Homo sapiens: one gene and its partners. The protein of the gene in region 2 interacts with the protein of the main gene of each other region in a biochemical or structural test. Each region holds a gene or a part of one and is shown on either strand. Other genes may lie near its edges.

Evidence for each region. Proteins that work in one complex are often made in the same cells at the same time.
Region 1: the proteins of PLEKHO1 (region 2) and SMAD5 form a complex in vitro, tested with the Homo sapiens proteins (one study listed by BioGRID).
Region 3: the proteins of PLEKHO1 (region 2) and AKT2 form a complex in vitro, tested with the Homo sapiens proteins (one study listed by BioGRID).

What each region holds. Positions count from the first base shown.
Region 1 is NC_000005.10:136,135,845-136,139,344, reverse strand, and holds part of SMAD5 (mothers against decapentaplegic homolog 5), read right to left. Parts: intron 1-3,500. UniProt on the Homo sapiens protein: Transcriptional regulator that plays a role in various cellular processes including embryonic development, cell differentiation, angiogenesis and tissue homeostasis.
Region 2 is NC_000001.11:150,148,524-150,152,715, reverse strand, and holds the start of PLEKHO1 (pleckstrin homology domain-containing family O member 1), read right to left. Parts: upstream 2,801-4,192; 5' UTR 2,459-2,800; coding exon 2,429-2,458; intron 2,120-2,428; exon of another isoform or gene 1,805-2,119; coding exon 1,658-1,804; intron 1-1,657. UniProt on the Homo sapiens protein: Plays a role in the regulation of the actin cytoskeleton through its interactions with actin capping protein (CP).
Region 3 is NC_000019.10:40,275,346-40,278,845, forward strand, and holds part of AKT2 (RAC-beta serine/threonine-protein kinase), read right to left. Parts: intron 1-3,500. UniProt on the Homo sapiens protein: Serine/threonine kinase closely related to AKT1 and AKT3. All 3 enzymes, AKT1, AKT2 and AKT3, are collectively known as AKT kinase.

The DNA of each region.
Region 1 (3,500 bases), on a different chromosome or scaffold from region 2:
TTGCTAAGCTTCACAAAGCTTCTATTTCAAATGAATTCATGTTGAATCAATAACCCAAAGGTCCTGTTCTTACCTAAGGTTATGGAAGTACTACATCCTGACCAACTTTCATAATAAACACACACACAAACTGACTTCAATACCCACCCCGAGACACACATACATACAGAAAAACATACAGAAAGACACACACACACACACACACACACACACACAGAGCTCACAGCTAGATTTCTAAAGTGAATTCACAGAAACAACTCTTTCACTTTGTGCTCCAACATCTCTATGACTGCTGCAATCTGAAATAAAAAGGCAAGCAAACCAATCCCCACATTTTCCTCAACACTATTGGCCAAAACAAAATCTCCTGAGCACATCATCCCATGAAAATAAATGCCCATAATGGGTCACAACCCATTGTATTCTAATTCAAACCTGTACAAAATAATTGGACATGGGGTTTTTAAATCAACAAATTCCTTAGAACCATCCCTCAAAATTCAGATTCACTAAGCTTGGCAGAAGGGCCTTACTGCCCACATTTTTAACAAGAATCTCGGACCATGCAGGAGGCTTGGGAACCAAGGTGCTCAGGATCTCCTGCAATGGAAGAAAGACACTTGCATACATACAACCTAAGGGTAACTTTTGGGGGCAGGGGGGATGTGGGGGTAAAGCTTTAAAAATCTCTTACCCTTGTGGTTCTCATTATCAATAGTAGTCACCAAGTGTCAGCAAGTAGACAACCACCACCACCACTGTCAAACCATCCCTAGATCCATGTATACAACTGCTATCAACTTTGTAAGCCACATTCACAACTGCACGCAGAGAGGAGAAGGAAACCAAAAGCATGTTTGCTCACAGCTCTTCTAGATTCAGAAATCCTATTCTTTATAAGAACATCTACAAGAAAGACAGGATACAATTACATGGGCGCCAAAATTATTTTCACAGAGAAACATTTAAATCACCACTTTCCTCAACTGTGGCTCCCGATTTCCAAAGACATAAGAAGTTCTCATAGCAGATTTCAAAGCCCTTCAGGAGCTGAACTCATGATTCCCAACACTTCTCACTGCATAATCTTCTTGCCTATTCTGTGCCCACAGAATTCTCTACTTTATTATCTCCCACAGCCAGACTTTTGTTTCCCAGTTTTTAATCACTCTTTAAGCTTCACCTGCTCCTCTAAGTCCCCTAATTAAACAGAGCCTGATCTAAATGTATCACTCACCCCCACAGAGCCTGCAAGATTTCCTACATTGCTACCAGATGTGTTTGAGTATGCTTGTACAGGCGTGTAGGCACAGGAACAGACACAGAGCTGGTCAATCTTTGTAGTGATTCCTTTAAATTATAAAATCATCAAGTGCAGATACCAAATCATGACTGTAAAATGTGTCTCTGGAGCACAAAGAGCTAACCTGTGTACACGACATATATTACAGTGCATTATGAAGATGTTCTCCAGAGAACTCATGTGCACCCAGAGTTCAAGTTCCCTGCTTAGTAGAAAAGGGAATAAACATGACTCTGGGTAACTTTTCAGCTCTAGTGTCATCATTCACTTAATTTACACTTTCATCTCCAAAGAATGAGAAATGGTCAATGAGTAAAGTAGACAGAAGATGTGACTAAGAAGAAAACAGAAGAAGACTGGCTTTTAAATATTTTTGCAGAACCCCCCTCTTCCTGGGAACACACAAACCAGAATAACTAGAACTCAAGTTGTACAGCCTACCAGATAGGATACTAGGCAGATCCTAACACATCATGAAAACAAACCTGAACAAAACAAAACTTGCCTTGAAAGCACCAGCCATATTCTGAGATCATAGTTAAATTTGAAAGATGTAAGCCTCCTCCCAAGACTCCAGTTGCTATGCTCAGAGAAAAAGTGGGAATGGGACACTAGTTTTTTTCTATTATTTTCGGTATAACAAAACAACATATATGGATATCAAAAGAAAAAATCCTGCTAAAATCTTAACAGGTCAAATCACTTTCAAACTTCTATATTGTACCAGTCTATAAAGTACATATATGCTATAGGAAGAGATGCGGGGGGGGGTCCCAAAAAATTCAAGAGCAAAACCTAGTTACAAAATGTTATGTTAATAACTAGCTTCCAAAAGTGAATTACAATTATAGTATTGCACACACAGAACTGACTTAATAAAGAACTCTTTCTTGCAAAATATCATCTCAACCAAGGTAGGATACAGTAAAAGGAGGAAGAAAAGTCACTGAAAACACCACTCTACTAGAACTGGGCCAAAAACATCCCCCCTAGCTGCCCAAGGCAAAAAAAAAAAAAAAAAAAATCAAAACTAAATAAAGAGCCCAGCCAGGCACGGTGGCTCACACCTGTAATCCCAGCACTTTGGGAGGCCATAGCGGGCAGATCACTTGAGGTCAGAAGTTCGAGACCAGCCTGGCCAACGAGGTGAAACTCCATCTCTATTAAAAATTCAAAAAATGAGCTGGACGTGGTGGTGGGTGCCTGTAATCCCAGCTACTCAGGAGGCTGAGGCAGGAGAATCGCTTGAAGCCGGGAGGCAGAATTGCAGTGAGTCAAGATCGCGTCACTGAACCCCAGCCTGGGCGACAGAGAGAGACACTCTCAAATAAATAGCCCAGAACTAGCTGATTATTTATGAAAAACCTAAGAACTCTGTAATTACCCCATCTTTCCAGGTTGGAAAACAACAAAGCTGTTAGAATATTAAGGTGGCCTATGAGATTAGTCCTAACAACAATCTAGTTTTTAACAATTCTTCCAAAAGAGTTCTAAATCTTTACCTCCCATTTAGTAAACAAACTTCTCAGATTCAGACTTCTGATTAGAGGTAAAGGGTATGTGACAACACCAATGAACTGCAAATTCCAATGACTATTATTCTATTAACTTCAGAAGTGGAAAAACAAGGTATGTTAAGAGTTCAAGACCAGCCTGGCGAACATGGTGAAACACCGTCTCTACTAAAAATACAAAAATTAGCCGGGTATGGTGGTGGGTGCCTGTAATCCCAGCTACTTGGGAGGCTGAGGCAGGAGAATTGCTTCAACCCGGGAGGCGGAGGTTGCAGTGAGCCAAGATTGCGCCACTGGACTCCAGATTGGGCGACAGAGCTAGAACCCAGTGGCGGGGGGATGCCATGGGTCAGCTTCCAAGGGTCCTTCATCATCTGTTTTGATGGGAAAGCACCCTATATTGCATCCCAGCTTCCTTGGGCCTTTTCTTTTCTCTAGAATATTCTTTTCTCTAGAATATCCAGGTATTCTTTTCTCTAGAATATCCAGACTGGTGGAGACAAGAATCATTCCTCAGGCTACTAGTATCCCTTATAAAAGGGAATCTTACTCAATGTCTTTGACCCTATGAGAAGACGGGCAAATCATAGGCTATAAGCTGCTTGTAACATTTGAAGAAATAAACTATTTGCCTTCTTTGTGGTTAGTGTACAGAGAGACAGAGAGACAGACAGACAGATACA
Region 2 (4,192 bases):
TTGTTTTTTTTTTTTTTTTTTTTTTTTAATTTAGAAAGCCAGAAAATTGTGGAGAAAACTTTCTGGAGGATTTGTGATTGGGCAGAGGTAACTCTTAAAAATAAATCCTCCTGGCCAGGCACGGTTGGCTCACACCTGTAATCCCAGCACTTTGGGAGGCTGAGGCGGGTGGTTCACTTGAGGCCAGGAGTTTTGAGAGCAGCCTGGTCAACAACGCGAAACACTGTCTCTACAAAAAATACAAAAACTAGCCAGACATGGTGGCACCCACCTGTAGTCCCAGCTACTCCAAGGATGAGGTGGGAGGATCACTTGAGCCTGGGAGGTGGAAGCTGAAGTGAGCTGTGATTGAGCCACTGCATTCCTGCCTGGATGACAGACCAAGAAAAGTGCCCTCACCTCACTCCTAAGACTTTCCATCACCAACTTGCTAGTTTTGTGTAAACAGCTAGGTTTCAATACCCTTAAGAGGGATCTCTTTGGCTGTGGCACAGCTTAGTTCTTCCCTAGATGCCTCAGTAGATGTTCTTTTAGATGAGTACTTTGTCTCAGGGTGTGTGTGTGTATGTTTCAATACCATAAAAGGTTTTATTTACCTAAATATAATCTACTGAATAAGGATGTCTACTGCAGAAAGCAGAAGAGGTTAGAACTCAGGGAGGACTTCCCAGTTAGCCCTGGGTGAGGGAACACAGAATACCTCCCGTGAGGGCGGGAGGAAGGGCCACTCTAACCGGTACACAGGACAGTCTTCCAGGCTATACTGACTGCCTTTGGACAGTCACAGAGGCAGGGAATGGAATGACTTCTAACCACTGTAGGGGCAATTCTGATTTCTCCACATTAGTACACGTTATTGATCCCAAGACTTAGGGAAAAAAGGGAGATGGGTCTGGATTCAATTATCATAGCTCAGGTCTTGACACAGTGTAGACTGTGGTTTTCATGGTTAACTACACAGCCAAAGCTATCCAAAGACATACAGGGGTTCTTAACTCCATTTCTCTCCCTTCTGATACAAATGGAGGGGTGGGCAGGAAGTGGGTAGAAAATGGGTTCCTTGCCTTTTTTAAATGGGGTGGGGGTGGGGAACAGAGAGCATACTGGTTAGGGACACTGGCTTCAACGAAAATAACTGCCACTCACACACCCGAGGTCACAGGGGCCTGACGGCGGGGTGCGTGTTTTCTGTGATTCAGGGCGGATGCGCCACGGACAGGACCTGTGCACGCTCCTGCCACAGACAGGAAAGGGGAGGCTGGCTGGGTTAAGGTGGGGGGACAGGAAGGGGTGGCGAATAGGCTAAACTGTTTCAGCAGAAATAGAAAAGAAATCCTATATGCAGGAGGCCAGGTTAGGGTGGGAGGCAGCAAGGGACACTTAGAACTTCTGGGGCATCTTGGGAGGGGCTTATCGTTGTTAGAAAGGTATTTGCAAACAAAAAAACACTGAGTAAGCGGCCAACTCAACTTCTAATTCTCACTCTGGTCTTCTCATTAAAGGGTGGCCTTTCTCTGCAGATGAGATGGGGGTAGAGAGGAGACCACTGAACTTGCCTTTGGAACAAAACGGGGGTGGAGTAAGCTAGGCGAGCCCTTGGGGAGTGACAAAGTGGGGGCTATGAGAAAACGGAGAGTTAGAGGCAAGAGGCACCCACCTCCTTCTCAGAGATGTAGAGCTGGTCCCCTTTCAGCACCACATAGCGGTTTTTCCAAATCTCCCTGAAAATCCCTTTCCCGCAGAATTTCCGGACCCAGCCGACCTTCTCGGGCGGTGCAGGCTGCTGGTTTCCATCCTGAGGTCCCTGCCCCAGGACAAGATGAGAAGCGGGCGGTTAGGAGATTCCAGCCGGCGCTTCCTCTCCGTCCGTCTCTCACGACCGCCTCGGCGGCCCAGTCTCCTCCGAAGGCTGCGGCCGGGGGGCGGGGGGCCGCCCCAGGTTCGCTCCCACTTCGGAAAGGTTTTCACTCCGAGGAACTCCCCCCGCTCCCCTCCCCCGCTCCCGAATAAACAACCGGGGCTGCAAGTGGCAGGGGCGCCGGCCGGGCGCGGAGAGGCTCCCAGGTTCCCTCCAGGCCCTGCGCCCCCGCCGCCCCGTCCTCGCCGCGCGGGGACTAACGGCGTTTCTCTGGTTTTCTCTCCCATTGTCTCCTCGCCACGGCGGAGCGCGAGGCAAACGCTCGCCCGGCGCCCGGGGGCGGGGGAGGTGCGGGTCGTGGGGAAACTCAGCCAAGTTGAAGCCCCCCGAGGCGAGTAAACAAACAAAAGCCCCCGCGGGCGCCTGGCGGGGCCGAGGCCGAGGGGACCGGGCCGCCGGGGCGGGGGCGCGGCCGGGCCGTGGGTCTCCCAGGCCGCCGCGGCGCCGACGGAGCGGGGGTCGTCAGAGCGCGGAGGCGGCGGCGGCCGCAGGGCGGGCAAGCGCACTCACCCGCTTGGCGGAATTGTTCTTCTTCATCATTCCCAGCGGGCGCGGGCGCGGGGCGGCGAGCCGAGGGGCGGCCCCGCGTCGGGGCCTCGGCGGCACCGCGGGGGCTCCTTCCCCGCGGGAGGGCGTCGGAGCTGCCCCGGCGCCGCCGCTCCTCCCTCGCGCCCTCCCGCTCCCGGACTCTCCCCTTCTTTGTAGCTCCGGTTTCACTCAAGGCCGGCCTCCCTCGCATTCGCACTCGCACACACACGCACGCCCGCTCCCCGCCCCTTGGCGCCCTCCATCCCGGCGCCCACGCGGCCCGGGTCCCCGAGCGCACCCCCGCCACCCGCCCGCCCGGCCCAGCGCGGCCGCTCCCCCGGCCCGGTGCGCTGTGGGCGGCCCAGTCCGCACCCCGCAGCTCCATCCGCGGGCCGCTGACGTTGCGAGTTCAGAATAAAGGGCGAATCGCGGAGCCGCAGCTCGGGCGCTCCCCCCGCCCCCCCGCCTTTGTTTCTGACTCACGGAGGGGGAAGAAGGCGGCTTCGAAGCGGCTGGAGACCGCTCCCCAGGGGGCAGGGACCCTCGCTCCGGCGGCGGCTCGGGCGACACGCGGAGCCCGAGAGACCCGGCCGCCGGCCGCCCCGGGGCCCAGTGGGCGGGCGCGGTGGATAATGGAGAGACGTGCGGATTCGTGAAGACTGGAGATCGCCAGCCTCTACAGCATCGCCTTACCCGACCAAAAACAAAAACGAGAGCGGGAACCGGGAGGGCGCGCCACCCACAACCCGCATCAGGAATTCACGCTCCTAGGTGCTAGGGTGGCCTGGGCAGGTCAGATGCTGGGGGAAAGTTTTATGCTCCGGAGGGGATCGACGTGTTGGGGGATGGGGTGGGACAGAAGTTGCTATTAATACACGTTTCTTCCAGCGTACAATGCCTCAGGCCTTATTGTAGCTTCAGGAGAATAATCCTAAGGATGAGGCGGATTTTATGATCTCCATCTCACAGGGAGAAAACGGAGACTCAGAATAGCTGAGGGATTTGCAGACACAGTGTCGATGCTGGCTTTTCAGACACAGTGTCAATGCTGGCAGGAATAGAACTCTGTCTCCAAACCATTATCCTTTCTACCAAGTGGCTTTCAATATAAGTTCCAGGTGAGGCTTAAACTTCCTGCCACCTGGGTATCTTTTCCCGCTATACTGATAGGTAAAAACCCCACCCTCTCTACAGCGCTGGAGCCCAGTGGAGGGAAGGGCTGAACGCCCAGAGAATGCCCTGACTAGAGAAGCCTCTGCTGATCCCTCCTACAGCAGATCTGCCTCAGAGCCTCCAGGACACATCTTAGTAACTTCATGTCTTTTTAATATATATACGTGTGATGGAAAAGGGGAGTGAGAAACCCCGCGCTTGGGTACTGGTTTCATCACCACTCTGGGCTTTGGTCAAGTCACTGAATTTCTTTAGGCCCGCGTCCCTCCACGTATTAAGTGGTGAGGGATGAACTGCCATTTTTATCAACAAGGAAAGCTAGGGGAAGATATGAGATGACCTCTGAGAGTCCTTTGAAGATATGTGTTGTCTTCCAGGGCTAATTTTGAAATCATAATAAGCTAATAAACACATTGCCTGGCATATGGCAAGCATGCAGTAACCACAAAATGAATAAAAATCCCTGGCACTGAGGAGCAGGGAAAAGGAAAAATCATTTTTCCAGAGATGTCTCAAGATAAAAGTGTTGGCTAGATTTGTGGTTTGAATAGTGGAGGCTCTTTTGACTTTTTC
Region 3 (3,500 bases), on a different chromosome or scaffold from region 2:
CTCCCTGGGAGCTCCAGGGCAGGGCCCAGTGGCAAAAGGAGAAACCAGTGGGTCTGCATCAAGGCTAATACTCAGTGAGCACTCACAAAGCACCAGGCATGGATTAATGTTCATCTTCACAGCCAGCCTGTGTTACTATCCCCGTTCCTCACATGGGAAAACTGAGGCCCAGGGAGAGAGCCACATGCACACAGTCACAGCGAGTAGGTGCAGGAGAGGGACCGCAACCAGAGCAGAACTAGCCCACAGACCTTTCCATAACGACAGAAATGTGGTTACTAAATGTTTGAATGATGGCTAGTGCAACTAAAGAACTGACTTTTTACTTTTCTTTAATTGTAATTAATTAAAACTTAAAAAGCCATATGTGAGTCCGGGCACGATGACTCACGCCTGTAATCCCAGCACTTTGGGAGGCTGGGGGGGGGGGGGGTGGGCGGGGGGCGATCACAAGGTCAGGAGTTCAAGACCAGCCTGGCCAAGATGGTGAAACCCTGTCTCTACTAAAAATACAAAAATTAGCCAGGCGTGGTGGTAGGCGCCTGTAATCCCAGCTACTCGGGAGGCTGAGGCAGAGAATCGCTTGAACCCGGGAGGCGGCGGTTGTAGTGAGACAAGATCACACCACTGCACTCCAGCCTGGGTGACAGAGCAAGACTCCGTCTCAAAAAAAAAAAAAAAAGTCCATACATGGCTAGTAGCTACCATTCTGGAGTGCAATTCTATAGAATTCCTGCTAATTAAGCACCGGGAGCTTAAAGGCAGGAGGCAGGGATGTGACTCTCACAGGCCCAAGAGGAGCCAGATCATCCCAGTGCGGCTGGAAGCTCCCATGCTATACCCCATCTCTCCCGCACCCCAACGCAGCTTACCTGGGGAATTGGAGCAGGACTCAGGCCCAAACTCACACCTCTAGTCAACTCAAATCCTGACTCTACCACTTCCAGGCTACACAGGTCACTTCTCTGAACCTCAGCTTCCGCATCTGTAAAATGGAATCTTTTTTTTTTTTTTTTTTTTTTTTTTTTTTTTTTTTTTTGAGACAGAGTCTCACTCTGTCGCCAGGCTGGAGTGCAGTAGTGCGATCTTGGCTCACTGCAACCTCTGCTTCCCAGGTTCAAGCAATTCTCCTGTCTCAACCTCCCGAATAGCTAGGATTATAGGCACCCACCACCACACCTGGCTAATTTTTGTATTTTTAGTACAGACAGGGTTTCACCATCTTGGCCAGGCTGGTACTGAACTCCTGACCTCGTGATCCACCCTCCTCGGCCTCCCAAAGTGCTGGGATTACAGGTGTGAACCACCGTGCCCAGCCTGTAGAATGGAATCTTAACACCAATCTGCCCAAGCACATGTTTATGTTATCTCAAAAGATAATTTTTGCAGGCCAGGTGCAGTGATTCACGCCTGTAATCCCAGCACTTTGGGAGGCTGAGGGATGTGGATCACTGGAGCCCAAAAGTTCAAGATCAGCCTGAGCAAAATAGGGAGACTCCCATCTCTACTGAAAATTGTTTTAAAAAAATTAGCCAGGTATGATGGTGCATGCCTGTAGTCCCAGCTACTCAGAAGGCTGAGGTGGGAGGACCACTTGAGCCAGTGAGGTCAAGGCTGCAATCAGCCATGATGGTGCCACTGCATTCCAGCCTGGGTGACAGAGCCAGACCCTGTCTCAAAAAAATAATGAAAAATTTAAAAAGATGATTTTTCTGATAACCATGGGTTGTCCTGGGGACCCAATGAGATGGCTTCACACACAGCTGGGGACAGGGCCAGTGCTTGAAAAATAGGTGGCAATTACATAAAGGACTCTGACATCAGGGGCCGTCCTGAGCCTGTCAGAGCCATGCAGTGGCAGCTAATGTTACTGCTGTCACTACTTGGTTCTAAAGGAATCATCCCAATAATTTCCAACATGCCCCTACTAACTTTTTGAAAATATCATCTAAATGAAAACACACAGCTAAAAAGAGTCAATGCCCTGCAGACACCTCCTCCCACCCGCCAAGGCCTTCGGACACCAGTTTGAGAAGCTGGGCTCTAGGGCGCCCTGTCTCCAAAGCAGAATATGGTCTGCTTTCTCCATCCCTGGCTGCCACCTGAATCCAGCCAGCTCTCTCCCACACAGGTCCCTCCCCACCCACCTGTGTCCCTTCTCTTTGGGGATAAAGCCCTGGATCCCCATCATAGCCCAGGCCCTGAGCCCTGCCACCCTGCTCTCTCCCCCTCACCCACTCCCCCGGCTCCAGCTACATGGGCCTGCTGTTCCACCAGCACATCCAGATATCGCCTTCCTTGCGGCCTTTACCTGGCTGCACCCCGTCCAGCCCACTTCCTCGGGCTCTCACATCACAGGGGCTCCTCAGCAGCCTTCCCAAGCCCCTCTCCCACCCAGTCCAGCTAGATCTCTGTTCCCTCCTTCAGCCACACCAAGCACTCACAGGCCAATGCAACCTCTCTGCCACCTCCGATCGCATCCAGAACTACACGTGGCACATAGAAGTGATTCAATCAATATTTGGAGACAGATGGAACACACAAATGACCAAGAACAGCCAAAGGCTGGCTCCTGAGGCTGTTCAGCAATCAGGCCCCTAGGGCAGTGGGGAGGGGGTGCCTCCCATCCTCATCTCTTCCCCCTGGGCCCCCCTTGGGAGGGGCCAAGGTCATGGTATTGGGGGTGGAGAGAAGCAGCCACACCCCACATCCCAAGCAGGCATGGAATGGAGTCATTTCTGGATTACTGAGGCCTACTTTGTGCCAGCTCTGTCTAGGAGAAGAGAAAGCAGAAAAGAAATCATGATGACAACAGTGACAACTCCAGTCATAGCAGGCAGGGCAAGAAGATGAGGCTGTCTTCAAAAGGCAGCTTCGCCGACAGAGCAGGGTTCAACCATCATGCCTATTACTGACTTCCAGCAAATCCAATAACCTCTCTATGCCCGTTTCCTCCCCTGTACAACGGGGACGATCGGGACAGCGAGCTGCCAGGCTGTGGTGAGGATGAGTGAGAGCAGACACCTTAAGCTCTGCAGCAGTGCCCAGCACTGAGAGGCGAACTACTCACGAGAATGACCCCAATATTCTATGTGGCTTCCTGGGCCTCAGTTTCCTATCTACGAGATGGGAGTGCTAACACTGCCCACCTCCCAGGCTGCTGTGCAGGTTTGTAGAGCTAATATGCAGCGTCTGGTTGGGCAGGAGTACAGTGGTGGGAGTGATTCACATTCCTGTCTGGAGCCCTCCCATCAGCTAACAGGCCCTACCACTCTCTCCCAAGGACCAACAACGAGCCTGTGCCCACTGCCCTGCAGAGCCCCTTCTGTGCTCTCAGGTGCCCTCAGTCCTGTCTGGCAATCACCAGGAGTAGCATCAGCCCAAATTCATCCCGCCGCCTCCTCAGGAGGCCTGTGCTTTCCAACGCAGCAGCTCCGTGCATCCTCCCCACCGCCCCACTCAGCAGGAAGGTTCCCGTTTACAGCTGAGCAAAATGCACC